Homo sapiens: one gene and its partners. The protein of the gene in region 1 purifies or fractionates together with the protein of each later gene. This does not show direct contact. Each region holds a gene or a part of one and is shown in the gene's direction. Other genes may lie near its edges. The genes, in order: SKI, MAEA, MKLN1, OSBPL8, ITGB4, AGRN and RMND5A.

The links.
Region 2: the proteins of SKI (region 1) and MAEA purify together in Homo sapiens (affinity purification with mass spectrometry; 2 studies listed by BioGRID and IntAct, with this or other methods). This does not show direct contact.
Region 3: the proteins of SKI (region 1) and MKLN1 purify together in Homo sapiens (affinity purification with mass spectrometry; 2 studies listed by BioGRID and IntAct, with this or other methods). This does not show direct contact.
Region 4: the proteins of SKI (region 1) and OSBPL8 purify together in Homo sapiens (affinity purification with mass spectrometry, with the first as the bait; one large-scale study listed by BioGRID). This does not show direct contact.
Region 5: the proteins of SKI (region 1) and ITGB4 purify together in Homo sapiens (affinity purification with mass spectrometry, with the first as the bait; one large-scale study listed by BioGRID). This does not show direct contact.
Region 6: the proteins of SKI (region 1) and AGRN purify together in Homo sapiens (affinity purification with mass spectrometry, with the first as the bait; one large-scale study listed by BioGRID). This does not show direct contact.
Region 7: the proteins of SKI (region 1) and RMND5A purify together in Homo sapiens (affinity purification with mass spectrometry; 4 studies listed by BioGRID and IntAct, with this or other methods). This does not show direct contact.

Annotation. Positions count from the first base shown.
Region 1 is NC_000001.11:2,304,819-2,308,318, forward strand, and holds part of SKI (ski oncogene), read left to right. Parts: intron 1-1,201; coding exon 1,202-1,432; intron 1,433-1,758; coding exon 1,759-1,947; 3' UTR 1,948-3,500. UniProt on the Homo sapiens protein: May play a role in terminal differentiation of skeletal muscle cells but not in the determination of cells to the myogenic lineage. Functions as a repressor of TGF-beta signaling.
Region 2 is NC_000004.12:1,296,391-1,299,890, forward strand, and holds part of MAEA (E3 ubiquitin-protein transferase MAEA), read left to right. Parts: intron 1-1,583; exon of another isoform or gene 1,584-1,725; intron 1,726-3,500.
Region 3 is NC_000007.14:131,334,376-131,337,875, forward strand, and holds part of MKLN1 (muskelin), read left to right. Parts: intron 1-3,500. UniProt on the Homo sapiens protein: Component of the CTLH E3 ubiquitin-protein ligase complex that selectively accepts ubiquitin from UBE2H and mediates ubiquitination and subsequent proteasomal degradation of the transcription factor HBP1.
Region 4 is NC_000012.12:76,553,272-76,556,771, reverse strand, and holds part of OSBPL8 (oxysterol-binding protein-related protein 8), read left to right. Parts: intron 1-3,500. UniProt on the Homo sapiens protein: Lipid transporter involved in lipid countertransport between the endoplasmic reticulum and the plasma membrane: specifically exchanges phosphatidylserine with phosphatidylinositol 4-phosphate (PI4P), delivering phosphatidylserine to the plasma membrane in exchange for PI4P, which is degraded by the SAC1/SACM1L phosphatase in the endoplasmic reticulum.
Region 5 is NC_000017.11:75,752,459-75,755,388, forward strand, and holds part of ITGB4 (integrin beta-4 isoform 1 precursor), read left to right. Parts: coding exon 1-119; intron 120-1,306; coding exon 1,307-1,516; intron 1,517-2,117; coding exon 2,118-2,357; intron 2,358-2,596; coding exon of another isoform or gene 2,597-2,755; intron 2,756-2,930. UniProt on the Homo sapiens protein: Integrin alpha-6/beta-4 is a receptor for laminin. Plays a critical structural role in the hemidesmosome of epithelial cells. Is required for the regulation of keratinocyte polarity and motility.
Region 6 is NC_000001.11:1,037,120-1,040,619, forward strand, and holds part of AGRN (agrin isoform 2 precursor), read left to right. Parts: intron 1-3,500. UniProt on the Homo sapiens protein: Isoform 1, isoform 4 and isoform 5: neuron-specific (z+) isoforms that contain C-terminal insertions of 8-19 AA are potent activators of AChR clustering.
Region 7 is NC_000002.12:86,768,791-86,772,290, forward strand, and holds part of RMND5A (E3 ubiquitin-protein transferase RMND5A), read left to right. Parts: intron 1-1,232; coding exon 1,233-1,335; intron 1,336-2,767; coding exon 2,768-2,922; intron 2,923-3,500.

The DNA of each region.
Region 1 (3,500 bases):
ACTACATTTGGCTTGACCACAGCTTTCCCCATCAGGATCACACACCCTGCGTGGTGGCCCCACTGAGGAAGTAGCCATGTTTCTCTGGTATAAGGGAGGCCGGGCTATTTTTAGTGGCAGAAAGAGTTGGGAGCAGCTGCATGGAGACAGTTCCTTGCTCTGTGTGCTCCAGGAGTGGGTGTTCACGCGCTCCGCCAGCAAGACCTGGCGTCTGCAAAACACAGGCGTGAGGGGCGTGCTTACTAATGCCTGGTGTTCCAGAAGGCGGCTCCCGCCAGGCCTCCCGAGTAGGAAGGAGAGGGCTCGGCCCGCACAGACACACACACACCCACCTGCACACGCTGCTTCTCTGGGCTCTGCCTCACGGTTCTCACGCTGCAGCTCCGGTCTCGCGCCTCCTTTTACGTTGTTTAGGTTTCTTTCTGACATGACTGAGGGAAGTGCGGTTCACAGGCAGAGCTGCCTGGGGAGAGAGGTGTGCAGGCGGCCCGTTGTTCACCGGGCCCCGGCCTCGCTAAATTCACACCTCGGCGGCGTCTGGCAGCTTCCGCGGCGTGGGCTTTAGCACAACACAACCCCGTCGGCCCTCAGAGCTGCAGGGTTGCCGACGTGCCCTCCTGCGCGTGCCAGTCCCTCGCCCCAGCACGTCCCCCGCCACTGTTGTCCTTGATTCTGGTTGGAGGTGTGATTTCCCACATACATATTCATGTGGTGTGTTTGCAGCGTGGGGTGTGAGTCACACGGATATTTTAATGGGGAGAGTGGGGGGGCTTGCGGAGGCGCCGGGCGGATGGACGTGTCCATCTGGCTGCGTGGGGAGACCCGGGGCCCTCAGATGGTGCGATGTCTGAGGCTGCCCTCCTCACATTGATGGGAGCCAGGGCCTACTTGGCTTGCTGCCCCCAAGGGGAACGTGGCCCTAGATACCGGGGGAGGCCCCGCCGCAGCCTCAAGTGACTGACTCAGGCCCCCAGGTTTAGCACAGCTGCCACAGGCCTGGCGGAAACTCCGGATGGGGGTCTGAAAAGCCTTTGTGGGGTCGGGGCACCACACGGGTTGGGCTGATGGCGCGCTGGGGGCGGGGCTCCAGGGCACATTGTCAGATAGATGACCCCACGGGGTGGGCTGAGGACTGCTGGTCATGGTGAGGGGTGTGCTGGGACCGGCTGGGCAGTGACCCCGAGCCGCCTCCGGCCCCCAGGAGCTGGAGTTCCTACGCGTGGCCAAGAAGGAGAAGCTGCGGGAGGCCACGGAGGCCAAGCGTAACCTGCGGAAGGAGATCGAGCGTCTCCGCGCCGAGAACGAGAAGAAGATGAAAGAGGCCAACGAGTCACGGCTGCGCCTGAAGCGGGAGCTGGAGCAGGCGCGGCAGGCCCGGGTGTGCGACAAGGGCTGCGAGGCGGGCCGCCTGCGCGCCAAGTACTCGGCCCAGGTATGCGGGTGGGGAGACTGAGGCACGCAGCACGGTGGGCGTGGAGCCGCCGTGGGCCCCGGTGGCCAGTCCTGCCCAGCCGGAAAGGCCTTGGAGCAGAAGCCAGGCCCGGGACCACGTTCCGTGCGTGCCCCCCCGACGGGCACAGGGTGGGTGGTTGCTGGGCCCTGCGTCTCGTGAGCCTGTGTCCTAGCAGGTGGAGGAGGGGCCGGCACGCGGCACTGGGGAGGGACAGGGAGCGGCGCAGGAGCCTCGGGTGGGGGAAGCAGCGTCGGGCCGGGGCAGGGCAGCGAGCAGGCGCCGCTGACCACTCGGCTCCCTTTCAGATCGAAGACCTGCAGGTGAAGCTGCAGCACGCGGAGGCGGACCGGGAGCAGCTGCGGGCCGACCTGCTGCGGGAGCGCGAGGCCCGGGAGCACCTGGAGAAGGTGGTGAAGGAGCTGCAGGAACAGCTGTGGCCGCGGGCCCGCCCCGAGGCTGCGGGCAGCGAGGGCGCTGCGGAGCTGGAGCCGTAGATTCCGTGCCTGCCGCCGCAGCGCCGCCGACAACGCGGGTGCAGGGGGGCGCGGCTGGGCGGTGCAGCTCCGCCCGGCTCCGCCCCTGCAGCCCACACAGCACAACGTCTTACCGTGCCTATTACCAAGCGAGTGTTTGTAACCATGTAGTTTTGGAACCCACTGCAAAATTTTCTACTGGCCAAGTTCAAGTGAGTAAGCCGCGTCCCCCAACTACAGCTGGAGACGGGGCCAGCTCGGCGGCCTGCTGGTCCTCTGCTTGCTGGAACATTCTAACATTTACACTTTTGTTATAAGCTATTTAAAACCAGTAAGGAGACTTGAAATTCAGAAAATCAACACATTTTTAAATGACTAACTTCTAAAAGCCCCAACACATGACGCCATCTGAAGACCCGCAACGGAGTGGGGGTGGCGGCCGCCCCACCCTCCCCACCCGGGGAAGCCATCACAGCTCATCTGCCCGCGGCTGCGTGAGGACAGCAGGGGTTTTTCTTCAGAGTCTATTTTTTCAGCGACAAGGACCCAGGTCTTCCTGCTGCTGCCAGGGAGAGCAGGGACAGTGCCGCGTGCGAGATGAGCTCGAACACTGCCCGCCTTACTGCCGCCTACCCCGCCCGCCACGCCGCCGTCGATGCCAGCGCTGTCCCCACGGGTACCAGGAAGTGCAGAGCCGCACAGGAGCTGCCCCGGAGCTGAGGGGACGGTCTTCGGCTCCTCTGCACCCCGTGATTCTGCCCACGCTCCTCCACCACGAGGCACTGACCTGCGTCGGGTGGTGACCGTGGCTGGCGGTCACGCCCTCAGCCCCTCCGGGCACACGTGCCGCCTGACCGGGCGACCCTTTTCAGTTCGGCAAACGTCGCTCCCTTCATTTTGGGACTGAGGCTGCAGCATTGGAACAAAAGAGCATTATTTCAATTTTTCTTTCTTTTTTTTTGTTCGTTCATTTAAACGTATATTTAGAACTGCACTTTGTCCACAACCTTCCCTTCTCTTTCTATTCCCCAGTGAACTGAGGTTTTTACCGATTTATAGAGCAGTCAAATCCGAAGTGCTCGAGTGCTTAGAAACCCCCTCTGGTGCTTGGTTGAACAAGGGAATCACAAGAAAACGAAAATGCAAAAACTGAACTTCGGGGGTCGTTCTGTGCCTTCCAGCATCTTGTACAGCAAATCCTGACTCGTGTCTTTTTACCCCCAAGATATCTGTCTTCAGTAGCGACTGAATCTGCCACTCTCAGAATAAGTTCCTTGCATTTATTCCAAATAATCTCGTTTACTCTCACCTGTTTATGCAAATTGTATAAGGTTTCTTATGCCCAAGCTTGAAAAATGATTTCCCAGTAGACAAGAGGCGGCTACCTATCCTACAGTTACGGTATTTATTTACATAAGAAGATCTTACAGGAGTTCTTTGCTTGAATCCGTTCTAACACCCGCGGCAGCTGCACGCGCTCACAGAAGGTGGAGGTTACTTGCCCAGGTACAGACGACCTCGGGGCAGTGACGAGCAAAGACCAGAGACTGCTGAGCCCTCGCATCTGGGTGGCG
Region 2 (3,500 bases), on another chromosome or scaffold:
CGTCACCCATGCCATTCCTCACCTGTACCCCTCACCCATGCCTGTGCCGTTCCTCACCCGTGCCTGTGCCCCCCTCACCCGTGCCTGTGCCTCCCTCACTTGCGCTGTGCCCCCCTCACCTGTGCTGTGCCCTTTGCCTTGTGGCTGCTCCTGCACTTGGTTCTCTCTCTGTTGGTCGGTTTTCCCATTGGCTGTGCAGCTCCCTGGTGTGCACGTGGCTCTGAGTCTTCCTCTCGTGAAAACCCCTTCCTTGCCCCCGTCCTCCTCCAGCTACTACTCCCTGTCTCTGCCCCTTCATGTCTCTCTTCCTGTTTTACCTAAATCAGATTTTTGCCCCCCAACACTCCACCCAGATGTTCCTCTTGAGGACAGGATGATGCTCCTGAAAGCGGTCAGTCCACAGCGGACCCCACTGCCTCGAGACGCTCCCATCACTCGGCTCCCGTGACACCATCCTCTGGGCTCTCCCCACCCCTCGCTGCATGTCCTCACTTGCCTATGCTGTCTTCTCTAGTCTTGGAGGCCTTTTGTTTTATGTCACCAGCCAGCCCTCCAGAGGTTGTGTGGCTTCACAGACGGTCTCCAAGCTCCTGTCCCCACACTGCTGCCCTCCCCAGGCCTCTCTCCCTGAGGCCATCCCGTGTAGTCACCTCCCGGAGCTCTCTTCGCATGTCTGGAAGGCAGTTCAAAGATACGATACCAGGCGCAAAACCAAATGCCGCATCTCGGCCTTGGGGCCCCAGACGAGCCCCAGACCTGCCTTACTAAGCCACCCTTCCCAAGTCAGTTGACAGCGATGTCCCCCGGCACTTGTTCAGTGACAGCCGAGAACTCGGAGGTTTTCTCGATTTCTGTTTCTCACGTTTATCCTTGAGTCCACGATGGCTGCTGGGGCTGCGGCCTTCGCGGCCAGGAGGAGGGTAAGGGGGAATCAGTGCCGCCCTGCGTGGCCAGCTCCCTGCGTGGGGGCCTTAGTGGACATCCTCCCAAGCGTTTACACTTCAGCTCATTCCCCAGAGCACGGGGCTGGCCATTTCTAGCTTTGGAGGAGCCTGAAAAAGTACGTGCGTATGTGTGTGTGTATACATACATATAGAGAGAGAGCACGCGCTTGAGTGTGGGCTCATTGCTGCCCTAAATAAAATTAGGATGTGGTTCCTTTTGCCCTTTGTCCCTTGCCTGCCTGGTTTCCTTTGCAGCACTCGTCACAGTCTGACGCGGTCGCCTGCATCTCTCTGTGCTTTGGTTGGGCGTCTCCTTTAGAGCGTCTGCTCTGCGAGGGCACGGGCCGTCCTTTGTCGTCGTTCACGTCACACCCACGAGTGCCTGGCACAGGAGTCAGTCAATGGCTGTTGGCCGAACCAATTTCTCCCCCGTCTGTCTGGGAAATTCCTAAACTTCGCATCTCACTTTTGTCCACTTGCCGCATTCTAGAGTATGTCTTGGTCTCATGGCCTGTGCTCTCATCTGGCTGTGGTCAGCCTCTTGCGTTTCCTTTCTCCCTTGCCTCCACCCCTCGCGATGTAGCCCCATCCCCTGCCCTTCTCTGCTTCCCATTGTTCTAGAACATTCCAGCATGGAAACCCCGCTGTGCAAGGCCCCTGCACTGGCCACAGAAGCCGCACCTATCTGCTGAGGAACCCGGTTGCTGCCTGGAGTGGGTGTCGAGTACTGCCTGGCAGCATAGCCATGCTTCTTGAGGCATTTTAGCACCCTGTACCCCAGGTACTGTTCCATATGCCCCTCCTTCTCCATGAGCCCCCCATGCCTGCCCCGTCCTTGTGCTCTGCCCGCGGCTTGGCCCTGTCTGTCGCCTGCCTGCTTGTGCTCACTGTTTCCTTTCTTTTACTGGAGATATGTCATTTGTGCCCCGCCCAAGGCCAGCCTTTGTTCATGCACCAGACCCCCTGCCCCATCCCTGTGACCTGAAGAGGCATGTGCCGTCTTCTGGTTATCCACGAAGAGGCACACGCGCCGTCTTCTGGTTATCCACGAAGAGGCACACGCGCCGTCTTCTGGTTATCCACGAAGAGGCACACGCGCCGTCTTCTGGTTAACTGTGTGCGGGACCCACAGGTCCCCTCTGTCTGAGCCAGCCCTGCCTTGGGGTCTCTGGAATTGCTTCTCATCTGGTTTTACCCCCATCACAGTGCTATAGTCAGGGCACCAGGTAACCCCAAGACACTGCTGAGACCCATGATGGATTCTTGCTGCCCATCTCGACCTCTCACAGGGCTGGAACACAGCTCACCCCCTCGGGCTCCTAGAGCGCCATCCTCGCGTTTCCCCCCGGGCTCAGTCCTTGGCCCTGGGTGTTGCTGTGAGCACCGCTGCCTTGGTGCTCTCACAGGGTCTAGTGGACTGATAGGACCCTCTGTGTATACTGATGACTCCCAGGCAGGTATCTTCCCAACCCCAGAGCCCTGTATCCAGTAGCCTGTAAAACATACCCACTTGGCAAGGCACTTTGGCATTAAAATTATTATTATTAAAATTATTATTATTTTTAGAGATGGGATCTCACTCTGGCACCCAGGCGGGAGTGCAGTGGCATGATCACAGCTCACTTCAGCCTTGACCTCCTGGGCTCAGGTGATCTTCCTGCCTCAGCCTCCCGGGTAACTGGGACCACGGGCGCCTGCTTCCGTGTCTGGCTAATTTTTTTATTTGTAGAGATAGGTTCTAGCTCCGTTGTCTAGGCTGGTCTCCATCTCTTGGGCTCAAGCATTCCTCCCTCCTGGGCGTCCAAAAGTGTTGGAATAACAGGTGTGAGCCACCATGCCCAGCTCCTTGGCATATTTAGATCTGAGCTTATCATCTTAACACCTGCTGCCCAAACCAATTCTACCAGTCTCCCTTCTCTTCGGGAAGGGCAGCCCCTCCATCTCCCTTGGTCAGGCCAGAACCTTCAGGTTGGCCTTGATGCCTCTGTTGTCACAGCTCATGCCCAGCCCGTCTGCCCCTCCACCCTGGCGTCAGGACATGCCCAGGCCCAGCTGCTGCTGCTCTTCCCACCTCTGCCCCTGCGGCTCAAGTCGCATCTCTCTCTGGAATATTGAATAGCCTTCTGGCTGCTCCTGCTCTGCTCATGCCCACCCCGGCTGCCCCAGCGCCAGATCCTGTCGTCTTTTTGTTCTAGGAGTTTCCTGACCTGGGGATGAAGGCCAGGGTCGTTACAGTGGCTCCCAGGCCCTTTGCCCTGTAGGGTGCTGGGCCCAGTGGCCTTTCTGCCGCCATTCAGCCAGGCCAGCATGCCGAGCCCAGGGTTTTACTGCCACCTTCCTCTGTCTGGAGCGCTCCTTCCACAGATGTCCATGGTCCCATGTCCTCACCTTCAATCTTTGCCAACGTCCGTGGTCCCATGTCCTCACCTCCTTCAATCTTCGCTGAGCTGTCAGCTTGTGAAGCTTCTCTGACTCCACTGTTGAAACTGCAGCCCCAGCATCTCCCACTTCTGCCCTTTTCCCTCGTGAGTCGTGACCGCTGTCTCACATAACGGT
Region 3 (3,500 bases), on another chromosome or scaffold:
TGTGTTTTTCAGTCTGGGACTCTTAGAACTTCAGAAAAATAAAAACACTCAAGATGGAAGAAATGTACTCAGGATGAGAATTTGAGTCTACAGAGCTGATTCCTAGAATTAGATATTTGTGACTTTTGGCAAGTTATGATTCTTTTCTGAGCGTCAGTTTCTTGTGTAGAAATACTTTTTATCTTGATCAAATGTTGAGAGGTTTATGTACAATTTTTTGGGCACATGGGTAAATGGTTCTATTATTTGCGTTAACTTTTAGGTAAATATTTAAATAGATTTTTAATAAATGATTTTTGGCCTGATACAAAGACTTTGTGATGTTTTACGTGTAGATAAGATACATTTCAGCCACTTGTGGCAATGAGTTTGCTGTATTTCAGTCATTCAAAAATCGTTTTTGGAAATATGAAAGATTTTCTAGACTTTAATTTTAGAGATACAGCTATTTATAGACATTTTAATATGTATAAAATGTTTCAAAGAATGTACAGTTGAGAATTTAGAGATCCCTAATTACTGTTTGTTTATAATACCATTTGTCAGAAATCTCTGATAAGAGACAATAGAAAATTTATAAAATTTCTAGGTCTTTATAGGTTCAATCTTAGGATAGTTGATCCGGGTATCTTCTCTGCTACCGGATTTCCCAGGGCTTGTTTTGTGAATGGCTGGTTCTGTAGATTGTTGCTTATTAAGGGGTGGTCAGATAAAGCTCTGAGAAGTCCAGCAGTATTAAAATCTATTAATATGGGGGACTTTTGAAGAAAATATTTTTTAACATCTTTGCACATTGGGAAGATGTTTCAGTTAGAAAATTTTTTTGTTGTTGTTTAATGAGAACTTCAGGACTTGGTTACGAATATTTCTAAAAATCTGTGAAGTCAAAGTAACATTCTGTAGAATACTGTGTATGTATATTTATGCTGTAGATAAACAAAGATATTGTTTGTTTAATGGGTTTTGCTTATGATGAAATTTTACTGATTAAGATTAATCCATGTTTAAAAAAGTATACAAAGAGAAAGGAAATATCATAGTCATTATCTAGGAATAATTTAAGTAGTCTAATATAAATCTGTCCCTAAAAAAGTTGTTGAATGGCAGCTAACTAGATTGAAGTACCCTAACATAACTTATATTTTGAATTGGTTGTTAATAATAATTGGAAAACTAGGCTATGTTTAGTCCTAAGACTATAGGGTTTCCTCTCAACACATTTTAGCTGTATCCCACAAATTGTGGTATGTTACATGTTCATTATCATTTATGCAAAAATGTTTTTCAGATTTTATTTTGGCTTATTCTTTGACCTGTAGGTTTTTTTTTTTTTTTAACAAATGTATTGCTTACTTTTTGAACGTTTGGGGATTTGCTAGTTATCTTTCTGTTACTAATTTCTTAATTTCACTATGATTAGAGAACACACTCTGAATAGTTTCAGACCTTTATTGATACTTATTTTATGGCTCAGCATTTTTATAAATGTTTATGTACCCTTGAAAAGACTATGCATTCTGCTGTTAACTACTGTCTTCTATGTACTTTGTTAAGTTCAAGTTTGTAAATTGTGTTATTGTGTTGTACAAATCTTCTCTATCCTTACTGAATTTTTTTTTTTTTGCCTTTTTTTCTATTCATTACAGAGAGAGGTGTCTTGAGGTTAAGTGTCAAATGTGTCTTACTGTGATTGTGGATTTGTATATTTCTCCTTTTAGTTCTATAAAGAACTAAACTGTATGCTTTATGTATTTTGAAGTCATATTACTAGGCACATACAAACTTATCTTTCTAGTACATTGGCTCTTTATCATTATAACATGTCCCTTTTTATCTCTAGTAACACTTGTCTCTCGCCTCAAAGTCTTCTTAGCTACACCTGCTTTATTTTGGCTGCTGTTTGCTTGCATGGTAAAACTTTCTCTCTCCTTTTTGCTTTTAATGCTCCTGTAGCTTTATATTTGGGGTCTGTTTCTTGTTAAGAATAAACAGATTTTTGTTTGCCTGTTTTTAATTAAATCTGAAATATATTTAGCTCATTAATGGTAAATATAATTATTGATAAATTTGGGTTTATGTCTGTCATTTTATTGTTTTCTGTTTGTCCTACTTGTTCTATATTCTATTTTCTCTCCATTGTTGCCTTCTTTTGGATTAATCAAGTGTTTTAAAAATATTATTTTATTCCTCCCTTTGTTAGCTTGTTAGTTATATATTCTGTTACTGTTCTTTTGGTGGTTACGCTAGATCACCACAAGCTTTCTTGTGGTACATTAGAGTTGCATATTCATTAGGATTTTGAAAAACAACATCTCAGACATTGTTAGGACCCTAGAAAACTTTAATAGCATTTATCACTCTCCTGCTTTTATGTTGTCATTGTCATGCATTTCACGTCTACATTTAAATCCAGAGACTGTTGTTTTGTACAGTTAATATTTACCCTTTCCATTGTTCTTTATTTCCTTTTGTATTTACATGCTTCCATCTGAGATTAATTTTCCTCTGTCTGAAGAACTCCTTTTAGGGAGTTTGGTGGTACTGAATTCTCAGTTTTTGCTTGTTTGAAATTTATTTATTTTCATCTTTGAAGAATATATTAAATGACTGTACAGTTCTACATTATTAGCTGTTATTTTCTTGAAGCACTTTAAAGATCTCAGTTCATTGTCTTCTAGCTTCCATTGTTTCTGTTGCAAAATCAGCCGTCAGACTTACTGTTGCTTCTTGGAAGGTAGTATGACTTTCTTGTTCAGCTGCCTTTCTTTTTGTCATTCTCTTTTTCTTTAAGTTTAAACAGCTTTCAGTGATGCACCTAAGAATGGTTTTGTTTGTACCCTGTTTGGCGTTTCTGGCACCTCTTGAATTTGTAGTATGACTGATCAGCTGTGAAAAAATTTTGACTTTTTAAAAATATTGTTTCTGCCCCATTTTTGTCTCCTTTGCTCTGTGACTCCAATTAAATCTTTATTATACTTTTTATCCCCCATATGTCTCCTGCTCTCTTCTGTTATTTTTATGATTTTTTTCCTCCTCTTATCCGTTCTGGATAGTTTTTACTTGACTGTATTTCAGTTCACTTATTCTGAATTTAACTATGTCCAATCTGCTTTTTAACCCCATCTATTCTTAATTTTAGTTATAGTATTTTTTAGTTTTAGAATTATTTCATCCTCTCTTTTTAAGATAGATTCTAATTATGTGAAAATCTCTTGTCATGTATTTTTTGAGCATATTAATCAAATTGCTTTAAAGTCTGTGTCTGAAAACTTCAATATCTGTATCACCTATAGGCCTATTTCCATCATCTCTTTCCTTTTGATTTTGCATCTTGTTAGGCCAAATAATAATAATAGTTAATATATTTGTATATTAATGTATGTTAATTATATATTCTATTGTATATTATATAAATTATTACATGTGGATAATAACATAATAGTAATAATTATTATTAGGCAATTTTTTGATGGAGTGCCAGACATTATATGCAGAATTTT
Region 4 (3,500 bases), on another chromosome or scaffold:
GAATCGCATGAACCCAGGAGACAGAGATTGCAACGAGCCAAGATCATGCCATTGCACTCCAGCCTGGGCGATAGAGCAAGACTCAGTCTCAAAAAACACCAAAAAAACAAAAAGCCTCTGAGAAATATACAATTTTTAGTGAAGGTGGCTGGGTACAAGGAGATTAGTAGAAGTGCTTGACTGGAGCAGTTGTGGCCAAAGTATAGCTTCCTTGTGATGAGACACAGGAAGAGATGTCTAGACTCATGTTGTGTGCATATTTCATGGCAGTATGTGGGAAACCCCTGAGAGATTTTAGATCTTTCTTCCCACCTTGGTCCCCATCCCTCACATATCCTCACAAAGTCATAAAATTCTCATGTGGAAGGCGTGATAGAAGGAATTTTTCTTCCTGAAAAGTGTTATCAAGCTTGCAAGGGAGAGAGCTATTTTCGGAGACCTTATAGGGAAGAAATCCTAGTCCTAGAGCATCATATTCTTATACCCTGTTATTTTTACCTTTGTCGAAGATCCAGATAATGTAAATTCTCCATGATAGCAAGGACCTTGTCTGTTTTGCTCACCATTGAATCTCCAAATGTTCAATAGTTAATGAATGAAAAAAGTCTACTTCCAGATATATGACTGGAGAACAAAAGGAGTATCTGATAATGTAGTCCAAACTAAATGCAAGCAGCGAAATGATAAAGGAAGGATGTTAGCTTGGGAGAAGGGGAACAGGTCATTTAATCTGGGAAACTTTCTTGGAGGAGGTGATTCTTGAGTTAGGTTTTGGTGTGGGCTGTGTGTCTGAAGATAAGCAGTGTCTAAGGGGGTAGACAACGTGCAGCAAAGCATTTAAGTCAGACTGAATAAATTATGTCAGATAAAGCACAGTAAGTCTTTTTTTGTAACATTATGAAGAATTTTTATTCTCCCATCTCTATTTTCACCTCTCCCTAAATAAAAAGATTAACTTGCTTTGCAACAGCAGAGATTGACAGTACTTGAGTTTTGGAAGTACGATAAGGGTCAGAAAATTTGAATTGGTGTTCTGACTGAATCTTATACAAGCGTCGTTTCCATCGGCCAATCACTTGGTCTTAGTTTTCTCATTTGTAAAATCAGGATAATAATCCATGATCGTTGGGAGAACAAAGTTATATAATGCATGTGAAAGTGCATACCTCAATATGAATGTGCCTACCTCAATGTGTCACACATAGGAGGACTTCAGCAAATACAAAATTATTAAAACGTTTGTCTGCAGATCTTTAAAACATATTTTGATTCGTTTATCATGAACTCTAATATTTGCTTGACTCATCTAGATGACTCATGGCATTATGTTTAAATTGATCAGAATCAAAATTCTAGATAATTTTCTTTCAGTCAGTTTAATGTTTTCTGGTAGAAATGAGGCCTAATTGTATTACTGCTTAATGTTACAGACCACAAGGAGTGCTAGAAGCCTCAAATTTTTGAAGCTCAAAGTAAGGGATATGTGTAGCTGAAAATCTGAGCCTTTAAGCTTTTTTTCTCTACGTAATTTGTTTTTGAAGAAATTGTCTTTGCCTGTAATGTCATTTATCTATTCATTGTTGTGATGAAATAAGGGGTTTTCTGGTTGTTAAGAAAAAATTTACCAAAAATATTTTCTGTTTTTAGTGATGTGACTATAAGCCATGAAGATCTCTACCATCTGTGTTTTATTATAAAATTCAGTATTTCTTGAGCAAACAAACAGACATCTGCATTATTTCTTATCTAAGCTTTTTGTGCCAGTAGCTGTTCATTTATGAATCTCAGAATTTCATTATACTTTGTGAACTCTTTGTAGTGTTTTTGATCCATGGAGCAGTCTGTCCTTTGTATAATATTTGGAAGAGAATTTTATTATAAAAAGACTAAGAAGAGTCTTGAGCCTTTTTATTATACAAAGACTAAGAAGAGTCATCAAATGATAAGCCAGTTACCTACTAATTTCCATATTCAAAAAGGACTGAAAAAAAGAGGAAATGGTTTCAGAGCTTGACTTTTTTCAAATAAAAAGGAGAAGCTTTTTGATTTAGAGTTTTTGAAAACTTGATAGATTCAGAGGGAAATTGTTATAGGTCATATTAATAGCTAATGTGCGTCAACTGCTATATACCAGGTACTGTACTACTCTAGAAGTACTTGACATGTCATCACATTTGATCCTGACAACCACCCCGCAATCAGGCTATTTTCTTTTTTTTAAACCTGAGCAACTGACAGATTAAATAAGTGGTGGAGCCAGGATTTGAACTAAACCTGAGGCACAGAGAAGTTAAGTAGTAGGTGGTAGAGCCTACTAAAAGGATTTAAACTTGAGGTTTAACCTGACCTTTGACTTTGGAGCCTATCCTTTTAACCATCATATTATATACTGCCTTGTATAATTTATTTGCAGTTGCTCCTCTTGATACGTCTTGACCTTGTGATCTTCCTGAGTCTGTTTTAGTTGTGTCATTTACAAAATGCACTTTACTTTATAAGAAGATGGAATATAGCCTTGATTTTTTTTCTCTCATTTTACTTGTATTTGACTGACATCCTATTTTTAAATCTTAAAAATACTTAGAGTAAAGCAAATATTTATTTTATTGTTCATCCAGTTGCCATTTTCTCACTGGGGAATTTCAGAGAATTTCGGAGTAACTGGAAATTAAAGAACATAATAGATAACAGTATTTAAAGCTAAGTTGTTATAATTAAAAAATAGTTTTAAAGAATAAGGCTGATTCACAGAATTGGTATGCATTTTTTTTTAGTGTTTTTTTTTTTTTTTTTTTGAGATAGAGTCTCACTGTGTCACCTAGGCTGGAGTGCAGTAGTGTGATCTTGGCTCACTGCAACCTCTGCCTCCCGGTTTCAAGTGATTCTCATGCCTGAGCCTCCTGAGTAGCTGGGATTACGGGTGCATGCCACCATGCCCAGCTAATTTTTTGTATTTTTAGTAGAGATGGGGTTTCACCATATTGGCCAGGCTGTTCTCGAACTCCTGACGTAAAGTGATCCACCTGCCTCGTCCTCCCAAAGTGTTGAGATTACAGGCGTGAGCTACCTCCTCTGGCCTTTTTTTTTTTTCTTCTGATACAGGGTCTTGAGCTGTCACCTAGGCTGGAGTGCAGTGGCACTCACTACCATGGCTCACTGCAGCCTCGACCTCCCAGGCTCAAGTGATCCTCCTGTCTCTGCCTCCCAAGTAGCTGGGACTACAGGCGAATACCATCACACCTGGCTAATTTTTAAGTTTTTTTTTTTTTTTTTAGAAACAGAGTCTCACTATGTTGCCCAGCTTGGTCTTGAACCCCTAGCCTCAAATGATTCTCCCACCTTGGTCTCCCAAAGTGCTGGGATTATAGATGTGAGCTGCCATGCCAGGCCTATTTAGTGATATTTGAGGGACACAGATCTGTACAGTTGAAATCTGTCCTGTTGAGATGACCACCAGTAAGGTAATTTTTGCTTTTTGGCTGCCAAATGCCTACATATTA
Region 5 (2,930 bases), on another chromosome or scaffold:
TGACATCCCTATCGTGGACGCCCAGAGCGGGGAGGACTACGACAGCTTCCTTATGTACAGCGATGACGTTCTACGCTCTCCATCGGGCAGCCAGAGGCCCAGCGTCTCCGATGACACTGGTGAGTGGAGACCTGGGACCCACAAGAGGACAGTGGGGGTCTTGGGTACAGAGTGAGTCCACTGGGTCCAGAGAGGGCAAAGGGGCCAGCAACTAGAGGACATGGAGGTTAAGGCAGCCTTGGACAAATGCAATGGAGTGCACATCTGTGCATGGGGCACAGGAACCAGTGCCTGGGGGACAGACACACACAGCCTTGTGCAAGCGCACATGAGTTCATGCCCACGGGACCACGAAGAAACACAGCTTCACAAGTTGAAGGTTCACCAGCTGTGCCATGCACACAGGACACTCAGGCCACCCCCCAGGGGCAGGCCTGGCCCAGGAGCCCTGGGCAGCCACCAGGCGGCCACCTGGCAGGGGTAGGGGAGCCAAGGAGACAAGAACACCCCCAACAGCTCTGTCCTTCCTCCTTGATTCCCAGCACAAAGTGCTGCGGAGCCCTTAGCTGGGCCTCCTGAGTGCTCAGTGTCAGCTGTGGCTCCACCTGTGGGACATCAGATGAATCACTCATCCTTTCCATGCCTCACTTTTCTGCTCTGTATAATGGGATACCAATCACACAGTACCATGAGTGGAAAAACCTCTGGGGCACGTATATCTTTTGTATTTTCTTCTGTCCCTGCCGATGCCTCAAGCTGCCCCCGGTGAACACATACTGGCCCCCACGGGGCTCAGCTTGGGCTTAAGGAGCCATTTTGAGGGGTTCAGGTGGAGCGCAGCTGGTGTGACTCTGGAACCCCAGCTCAGCTGCTTCTAACACTACCTGCGAAGCGCTCGGTGGCTTGCGGAACGGTCCCTGGGAGGCGGGCAGGGGCAAGATTCCTCTCTCCATTGTACAAACGGGAAACTGAGTCTCGGAGAGGTTAAGTAAAGCAAGGGAGACCTCACAGCTGGTGACAGAGCCCAGACTTCCCCCAGGTTTCTGGCGGGTCCGGGGGTCTCTCCTCCCCAGCTGTGCCGAGGCTGCACTCGCTCATCTGGAAAGGCTTCAGCCGCGCAAGGGTTTCACCTGCCGCGGCCTTCCCGCTCCGGCCGTGCGCATCTACCCCCGCCCCCAACACACACCCCGGGATCCCGGGAGCTGGAGACGGGCTCCCCTCGCAGAGCCTACGGCCTTCCCCCGCCTGGCCCTGCTCGGCCCGGCGCCCCCCGGCGGTGCCAACGCGGCCCTTCGTTGTTCCCAAGGCTGCGGCTGGAAGTTCGAGCCCCTGCTGGGGGAGGAGCTGGACCTGCGGCGCGTCACGTGGCGGCTGCCCCCGGAGCTCATCCCGCGCCTGTCGGCCAGCAGCGGGCGCTCCTCCGACGCCGAGGCGCCCCACGGGCCCCCGGACGACGGCGGCGCGGGCGGGAAGGGCGGCAGCCTGCCCCGCAGTGCGACACCCGGGCCCCCCGGAGGTGACAGGCTCACCCGCCGCCCCCCGATCCGCGCCCACCCAGCCTCACTCGCGCCTGAGGGCCTGGGGTGGGCGTCTGCGCTGCCTCGGGGGCCCCAGTTTCAGCCAGGCCCGGGCCTTGGCGGCTGGGAGCACAGCTGCTCAGAGGCAGGGCCCAGTGCCAGGGGACGCGTGAGGCAGGCGCTTGGGCCCTTATGGTGCCTGCCTGGCCAGGGGGTGCAAATTCAGAAGTCTGCCCGGGAAGCGGACCCTGGCACCCAAGTAGACCCCTCAGGGGCCTCAAAGGACAGGAGGGAAGGCTTGGGGATCTCCCCAGGGCAGAGCTGACTGCAGACGCAGCAAACCCCCGCCACTGCCAGGGTCAGCAGTGCTCACACCGATAGAGTGGCCGGCCAGAGGATATGGGCTGTGGAAGCCTGGGTGGCCCTTGGGCTCCTGCAGGGACAGAGGGCCTCTGTCCCTAGTGGTTTGAGGGAAACTGGTTGTATTTAAGCAAAAGCCACCCAGAGGGTGGGTGACCAGGAATGTGCAGGGCCCAGCCTGCCCCACGGGGCCCGGGTCTGGGGCAGGCCTGACCAAGGGACCCTGCTCTCCCCCTGCAGAGCACCTGGTGAATGGCCGGATGGACTTTGCCTTCCCGGGCAGCACCAACTCCCTGCACAGGATGACCACGACCAGTGCTGCTGCCTATGGCACCCACCTGAGCCCACACGTGCCCCACCGCGTGCTAAGCACATCCTCCACCCTCACACGGGACTACAACTCACTGACCCGCTCAGAACACTCACACTCGACCACACTGCCCAGGGACTACTCCACCCTCACCTCCGTCTCCTCCCACGGTGAGTGACCTCAGCCAACCCTGCCTCTCCCACTAACCCTTCCTCTCTTCCAGCTCCTGGAGCCTCGGGCTTCTGTCTGCTGTCCCCACCGCCCATTCTCCAACATACACACACGCATGCACACATGCACGCACACACGTGCACACGCATGCACACATGTACACAGACATGCATGCGCACACGTACACACATGCATGCACACTCCCTGCTCCTCTCACTCTTGTTTTGTCCTGCCCTAGGCCTCCCTCCCATCTGGGAACACGGGAGGAGCAGGCTTCCGCTGTCCTGGGCCCTGGGGTCCCGGAGTCGGGCTCAGATGAAAGGGTTCCCCCCTTCCAGGGGCCCACGAGACTCTATAATCCTGGCTGGGAGGCCAGCAGCGCCCTCCTGGGGCCCAGGTAGTACAGGGGTGGCCATCCTGTCTCCACAGCTGTCCTGCTCCATCTGTCATCCAGCCACCATAGCAGCCGCCAGCTGTGCCCACTGCTTCCCCTCCATTCCATCCACAGGACCCCCGCCTGCCCACAGGCGCTAACCACCTGCCCTACCATCAGTGCTGATGCCTAACTCTGC
Region 6 (3,500 bases), 1.3 Mb from region 1:
GGGAGGAGACAGGTCTATGCAGGTCTATGCTGGTGGCTGGGGCCGGGCAGGGCCAGGGCAAGAACTGCGTTTCCACCACCTGTGAGCCAGAGGCCTGGAGCCAACTGGATTTAAAGAGGTGCTCAGGTGGGAGGTCCCCTCTCTTAGCATCCTCAGCCTCGTTTCCTGACACCCAGAAGGCTGGGGAGTGTCTCCTTTTCTTTACACACTGCCCCCTTCACCTGGCCACAGCCCACCCTGCCACAGAGTCACGGAGGGCTCCACACCAAGGCCATCGTGACCCACATGCCACCTAACTGTGGTCATAGTTACGGGCCAGAGCTCACAGCAGGGCTGGGGCATCCTCTCCATCCCCCAGCCTACCCAGGACCAGGAAGGGAGTTAAATATACCCGCTCCTATAAAAAGCACTGCCGCCTCCAGCGTTGCACACAGTGGGAGGACCCGTCACGCTGCGGGAGAGTGGGTGGGGAGGCCGAGTGGCCGGGGAGGGGCTCCTGCAGGAGGTGGAGCTAAGACAGGCGTGGCAGGACCCCCAAAAATGACCCATCGGGAACACAGGGCTCTCAGGGTCCTAGGTGTGTCACCTGCATCTATGAGGGGCCATGTGGGCAGGTGACCGGAGCACAGATGTGTCTGAGCCCAGTGCTGGCATTTCTAGCAGTGTGGCCTTGTCAGGTGGCCTACCTTCCTCCTGCCAGCTGGCAGGGGAGACATCTCGGGGCGTGGCTGCTGCAATGCGCTGTGCCTGGCGGGTACGTGCGTGTGTGCCATCACCACGTGCACCTGTCTTCAGGTGATCTCGTGTGGAGCCTCTATGATCCCCTAGGCCTGTGGAGACTCAGCACAGTGGTGGGAGCGGCCCCTCACCTAAGCCCGCAGTGTGAGCGGAGAATGGGGGGGTGGGGCTTCCCGGAGGCCGTGATTCCTGAGCTCACTCTTGAGGGGCAGATGTGTTTCCAGCCTGGATGGGGATAGGAGGGAGGGACCAGCACTGTGACCTTTAAACCCTGGGCTGGCCGGCAGTGTCACACCATCAAATGCTGTGAGGGAGATCCACCCCCACTCCACAGCTGGGGCCACATTCCAAGAGGAGCGGACTCTCTGAGGCCCTGGAGGCAGAGGGGAAGGGGCCAGGACCTGGCCCTGCACACCAGATGGGGATGGGGAGCCAGTGCTCAGCCTGGCTTCAAGGTCCCGCCAGGTACCCAAGGTCTCTCCACTGCCCTGCCACATTGGTCCAGCAGCTGGTCACTCAGAGCCTGTCCCTAAGGTACCTCTAGGCTCCCATCCCAGAGCTTGCTCTCCATGCCCCTGCAAGCAGTCCAGCCCCGCTCACCCTGGTGAGCTGCCATCATCACCTTCTTCCCCAAGGCTCTGTCTTGGGACGTAGCAGGACCTCGGGCTGGACTATGGAGGGAGCTGCGGGTCCTGGTGGATGAGGAGCATGCCCGCCATCCAGGAACAGTGCCCTTGGCCATGGTGTCAGGGCCTTGGGAGAGGTCTGGCTGAGCCAAGGTGACCAAAAGGGGAGAAAGGCTCAGGAGCCCTGGTGCAGGGAGGTGACTGGGTCCTTGGCCATGGGGTTGGGACCTGGGGGGAACCATTGGTCCACAGGTCCAGCCGAAGCCCAGGAGAACAGCTGGCTGGGCATCAGCAGGTGCCCGTTGGATTTGGACTGGGAGTCCCAGGGCCTTGGACAAGGCAGGGCCAAAGGGAGAGGGAGATGCTGAGGGGAGAGAGAAGGGGAACCAGAAGGGAAGTGAAAGGGCCAGGGGTGCATGTGGTTTGAGTTTGATTTGAGCCAGGACGGGGGAAGGCCAGTGGTGATGACAGCCCTCATGACTATACTTACAGTGGCAGCAGACGGGCCACATAGCGCTGTGTGCTGGGCACCCTCTAAGCTTTGCAGATACTGGCCCATTTAACCCCACAATCCTGGGAGGTAGGTCCTATTGCTCCTATTCACCGAAGGGGATACTGAGGCCCAGGCAGGTGATAACCTGCCCACATTCTCACAGTGGGTAATGCAGAGCTGAGCAGCCTGGCTGTAAGACCTGAGGTGGGAGAGTAGCAGAAGAGGGGTGGGGGCACAGCCAAGGTTTGGGGAGGAAGACAGGGATCTGGTGGGGGGAGCATGGGTAGGTTGCAGGGATGGCAGGCGGATGGCCCTCACTCAGCCTTCTGGGGTGGGGGCAGGGACACCCAGACAGACAGCGCCAGAGCCTGGGGTGGGCTGTTGCTATAGCAACAGCTGGCTCCAGCTCCCAGTGCACCCACCCTCCTTGGAGATGGGGGGGGTTCCTCCTGCCCCATTTCACGAGCCTGCTGGGAAGTGATGGGTGGTAGCCACCCCTCTGACATGACTTATTAATGATAATTGGACCCAATTAAACATTTATTAAATCCAGACAGCTGCAGCCGCTAACGGACCCTTCCCTGATCCTGGGTGGGCCATGCTGGGGGTGGGGGTGCTCAGGATGGGCTGCCGCAGGGGCTCTGGGTTTTAACGTGCCTGAGGCAGCTTTGTTGGCCACGTTGAGGTCTGGTGATGGGACGTGTGTCAGGCGCTGTGGTCTGCAGCTGTAAGAACTAAAATGAGCAACAGTTCCTGCACCTCTCCAAGAAGGAAGTTCGCTTTGACAGAGAGTGAGGGCGATGGAGGAGGCAAGAGTGAGGTGGGGGGCCGGGGGATGCCCAGGGAGGAGGGGGCGTGTGGGTGCCCCAGGGATCCCAGGGAGCGATGGGAGGCTGCAGAAGGGCACAGGCCTGCCGCGGGTGGGGGGCTGGCCAGGGAGAATAGGAGATAGTAGAGGCGGAGGCCAGGAATTTGCACTTCTCCAGGGAAGCTGGGGAAGAGTTGGGGAGAGGGAGGCAAGAAGATTCCCCACCCATCTTAGGCGCAGGGAGCGGTCAGGGAGGCGCCAGAGGTGGGCCAGAGCTGTGACCTGGCCTCACACCCCGTCCCGGTGGGGCTCTCAGGCCCCTGAGGGCCAGACGCGGGACCTGGGTGCGACCCGGGCGGGAGGCGGCAGGGCTCAGCTGTGCTGGACGCTGCAGCAGCGCGGGAAGGGGCTCCCCCGGCTCCATGGGGTGAATCGGTGAGGGGCTCCGGTGCCGATGTGGAAGGAGCTCCTGAGCAGAACTGGGGCCTGGACTGCTTGTGCCCGAGTTGGTTTCGAGGCGTCTCTGCTTTTCGCTGGAGGCCCACGAGGTGGGTGGGAAGTGGGTGCTCGCCCGTCGCAGAAACAGAGTCGGGTGCCGCCTGCGGCAGACGCCCCTCTCCGCGCCTGCAGGTGCGGGGTGGGGGAGAAAGGTCATCCCTGGAGAGGCCCGGGGCTGGCGGGAATCCTCGGCGGGCGGGGTCTGCGAGGGGCAGGGCCGGTCCTGTGAGCGCACGCACGCGTGTCCGTGTCCGTGGTGGACCCCCGATGCGGCGCGGGGGCGGGTGAATGCGCGGGCTGCGAGCACGGCAAGGTCTCTCAGGCTTGTGGACGTGGG
Region 7 (3,500 bases), on another chromosome or scaffold:
CTGGACAGGGGTGATCTGGGGATAAGAGGAACTATGCAAAAAAAATGTTTCAGGAGCAAGCATGTCATTTGACTGATAAGCTGAGCCCATTAAATCCAGTTGTTTTGTGCAATATAAAACCTTTTTTGGCACTAATGTAAGATTATTATGAAATTCTTTATATTTTACTTTTTGAAACAGGGTCTCATTCTGTTGCCCAGGTTGGAGTGCAGTGGCACGATCGTGGCTCACTGCAGCCTCAACCTCCTGGCATCCTCCCACCTCAGCCTGCTCAGTAGCTGGGACTCTAGGCACATGCTACCATACCTGGCTAATGGCTAATTTTTATATCTTTTGTAGAGACGGGGGTCTCACTGTGTTTCCCAGGCTGGTCTCAAACTCTCAAACTTAGGTAATCCTCCCACCTTGGCCTCCCAAAGTGCTGCAATTACAGGAGTGAGCCACCACCATCTGCTGTTATTAAATTCTCTAAAAACCTTATTCTCAATTCTGTACTTCTTTCCTGTGGATTGAAAATGGTGTGTAAATCAGCACCATCTGCAGACCACATTTTGAGTATCATTGTTCTAATTAGCGTATACCTTGGAGCACATTTTGTAAGAAAAATAAGTCTGGTGGTATATGGTCTGTAAGGAAGGGAATAGGAAAGGAAGTTATGTCTTGTATATTGCTGAGTGAAGAATTTTGTGCAAGAACATCTCTTTTTCCTTCAAACTCAGATGCTAAAACTACTGTATTTGGAAGAGTGTAGTAGTTCTTAATTCCTGCTCTTCATTTGAATTAATTGGTTCTCCAAAGCTGCTTTCTTTTTTAAAATGCATGTTTTAAAACTTTATTTTTCTATTTTCTGAGGAAGTAAGCTAAAGTTAAATTACCCTAGCAGATGAGTTTTTTTTTTTTAACGTTTGCGTTCTTTAACTGCATTTACCCCCATATTGGTGAGGTTTATTTAGAAAATTTAGAGTTTTATTTTTTGTTTTGTTTTTTAACTGGGATTGGTTTTCAGTAACTTCAGGAAATATACCAGTGGGCCTGGGGAAGAAGGGGAGGGAAAACAAGTTATTTCTCTTCTAGTGGAAATGGCTGGATTTACTTTTAGCAGAACAGAAAGCTCTCACCCTGTCCAGTGGCCAGGGTCTGCAGCACATAGAGTCTGGAGAAATTGATGTCTCCTTGGACCAAGCGGCCTGACCCCTGGCCTGGCACTGACGTTTCCTCTTCTGCTCTCCCAGTTTCTCAGCAGGTTGTGTGGCGCTGCCAGCTTTAATTAACATCAAAGCCGTGATTGAACAGAGGCAGTGTACTGGAGTTTGGAACCAGAAAGATGAATTACCTGTGAGTTCCATTTTCTATTGGCTATTTACTTTTACTGCCATTAGAAGAATATGGCATCTTTAAATGTTCATCTTACCTTTTAACCAGGAAACATTGTAGCCATTTGACAGGAGTTCTTTTATGGATATATAAAAGATTAAACAATACAAATGAAGAGCCTAGTACATTTTGGGGACCCTGGAGGAGGAGTATTATAATTTTGACTTGAAGTGCCTTTGAAAGCTGGTGAAGGGAAACATCAGAAGTGGGGAGGGCTGTACATACAGTAGCAGGCAGTGTGTTCTGCAGTGCAGTTCACAGACCACTCCTGTGATTGTTTTTCTAATATAAACGCAAATTTAATTGGTTTTACTTTTGTCTTAACTATTGCTGTCGATAAGATCACGAGTTTGTGCTGGTTACATTTGCCAATAGAATAAGTATAGAGCTCTTAAAGGTCGTAACACCTGCAGTCATCAGTGGGTCTCTAGTACTGTATTTCTACTGCTCTCATGGAAAGGACCATGGTTTTAAACATCAGCACGATCACTTGCCAACTCTAGAACTTCTCTAAGCAGTAGTGTATTCATCTCTAAGACAAGCACCAGCTTTCTCTTTATGGGGCTGCTGAAGGCTAGAGATAACATAAGCATGCTTAGAATAAGACGGGATACATGGTAGGCACTCAAATTGTGGCTGCCATGGTGCAGTTATGATGTGAAGTGGCGAAGGTCATTGTATGTATGTTTCCACCAGGTCTCTGACAGGCACTGAGGCTCTGGCCTGGAATTGTCGTTCCTGTCATGATTGTGTCACAGACCCTGAAAAGCTAACATACGCATTTGTTTTTTTGCCCGTTTTATACCACACCTGTACACGGGTTTATTTGCAGTTACCTTGTTCTTCCAGCAGGTAACCCTGTCAGTTGGTTGCCCCAGCTTCTCCTCAAAGATCTTTTCTGATTAAAGGCACAGGTGCAGTCCTGGTCCTGAGTGTGGTCAGGACACAAGTAGCACTCCTGCTCTACTGCCGCTAACTTGAACAAGTGAAAAGAACTTGAGCCTTCACTTGTTTTGTGGAGGCAGGTGCCTGGCATCTGGCAGTTTCCCATTTATGTTGTAAGCATCTCTGACATGCACTAAGAGCAGACTGAAATCTGAATTCACCTAAAGACTGTGTGTCAAGCCAGTAAAGCCATTAGAGGTGGTGATCAGGTCATTGTTTGTCAGACTTGTTTTTACACTTTGTCAGCTTTCTTGAAAATAATCTTGAAGGCTAATTTAACACTTTGAATCACTAAGACTGTCCATCTGAGTTAGAAGAGTGCTATAGAAAGTTACATTCAGGTGAATAGATCTGATCAATGTTCTTTGCTGCACAGTGTATATTACCATGTGGATGGTTTTGTGAAATATGACTTCAGCTTTTTTACTTTTTTTTTTTTTTTTAACAGATTGAAGTGGACCTTGGTAAAAAGTGCTGGTATCACTCTATATTTGCCTGCCCCATTCTTCGTCAGCAAACAACAGATAACAATCCACCCATGAAATTGGTCTGTGGTCATATTATATCAAGAGATGCCCTGAATAAAATGTTTAATGGTAGCAAGTAAGTGTCTGACTTTTAAAAAATGTTAGCAAATAAATTTTGTTTTGGAACTTGGTAGGAGGATAAGAAGTGATGAGGATTAAAAAAATGTAGCTAGATTTAGAACTAAATAAATTTCTTAACTATTCATTTGGCAAAGTTGGTGGTATCTGATTTGAGTATTTTTAATGTGTCTATGGATTTGGTGATTAGATTTATAAGCATGTCTTTAACTTAACTTTTGGGGTAGGTGATAGATTTTCCCCTTTTTTATACAAATGGTCGCATACTAAAAAATGTTCTGTACTTTGCTGTTTTCACTTAGTGATGTATTTTGGAGATCTTTTTCTGTGCTGCAGAAACAGCCCTCATTATTTTTTTGTTAAAGCTGCAGTATATTCTACTGTATAGAAATATGATTGGGTAGCCAGTTCCCTATTGATGAACATTTGTTTCTCTAAACAGTGCTAAGTGAAGGCCAGGTGTGGTGGCTTATGCCTGTAATCCCAGCACTGTGGGAGGCCGAGGCAGGCGGATCACGAGGTCAGGAGATTGAGACCATCCTGGCTAACACGGTGAAATCCCATCTCTACTAAAAA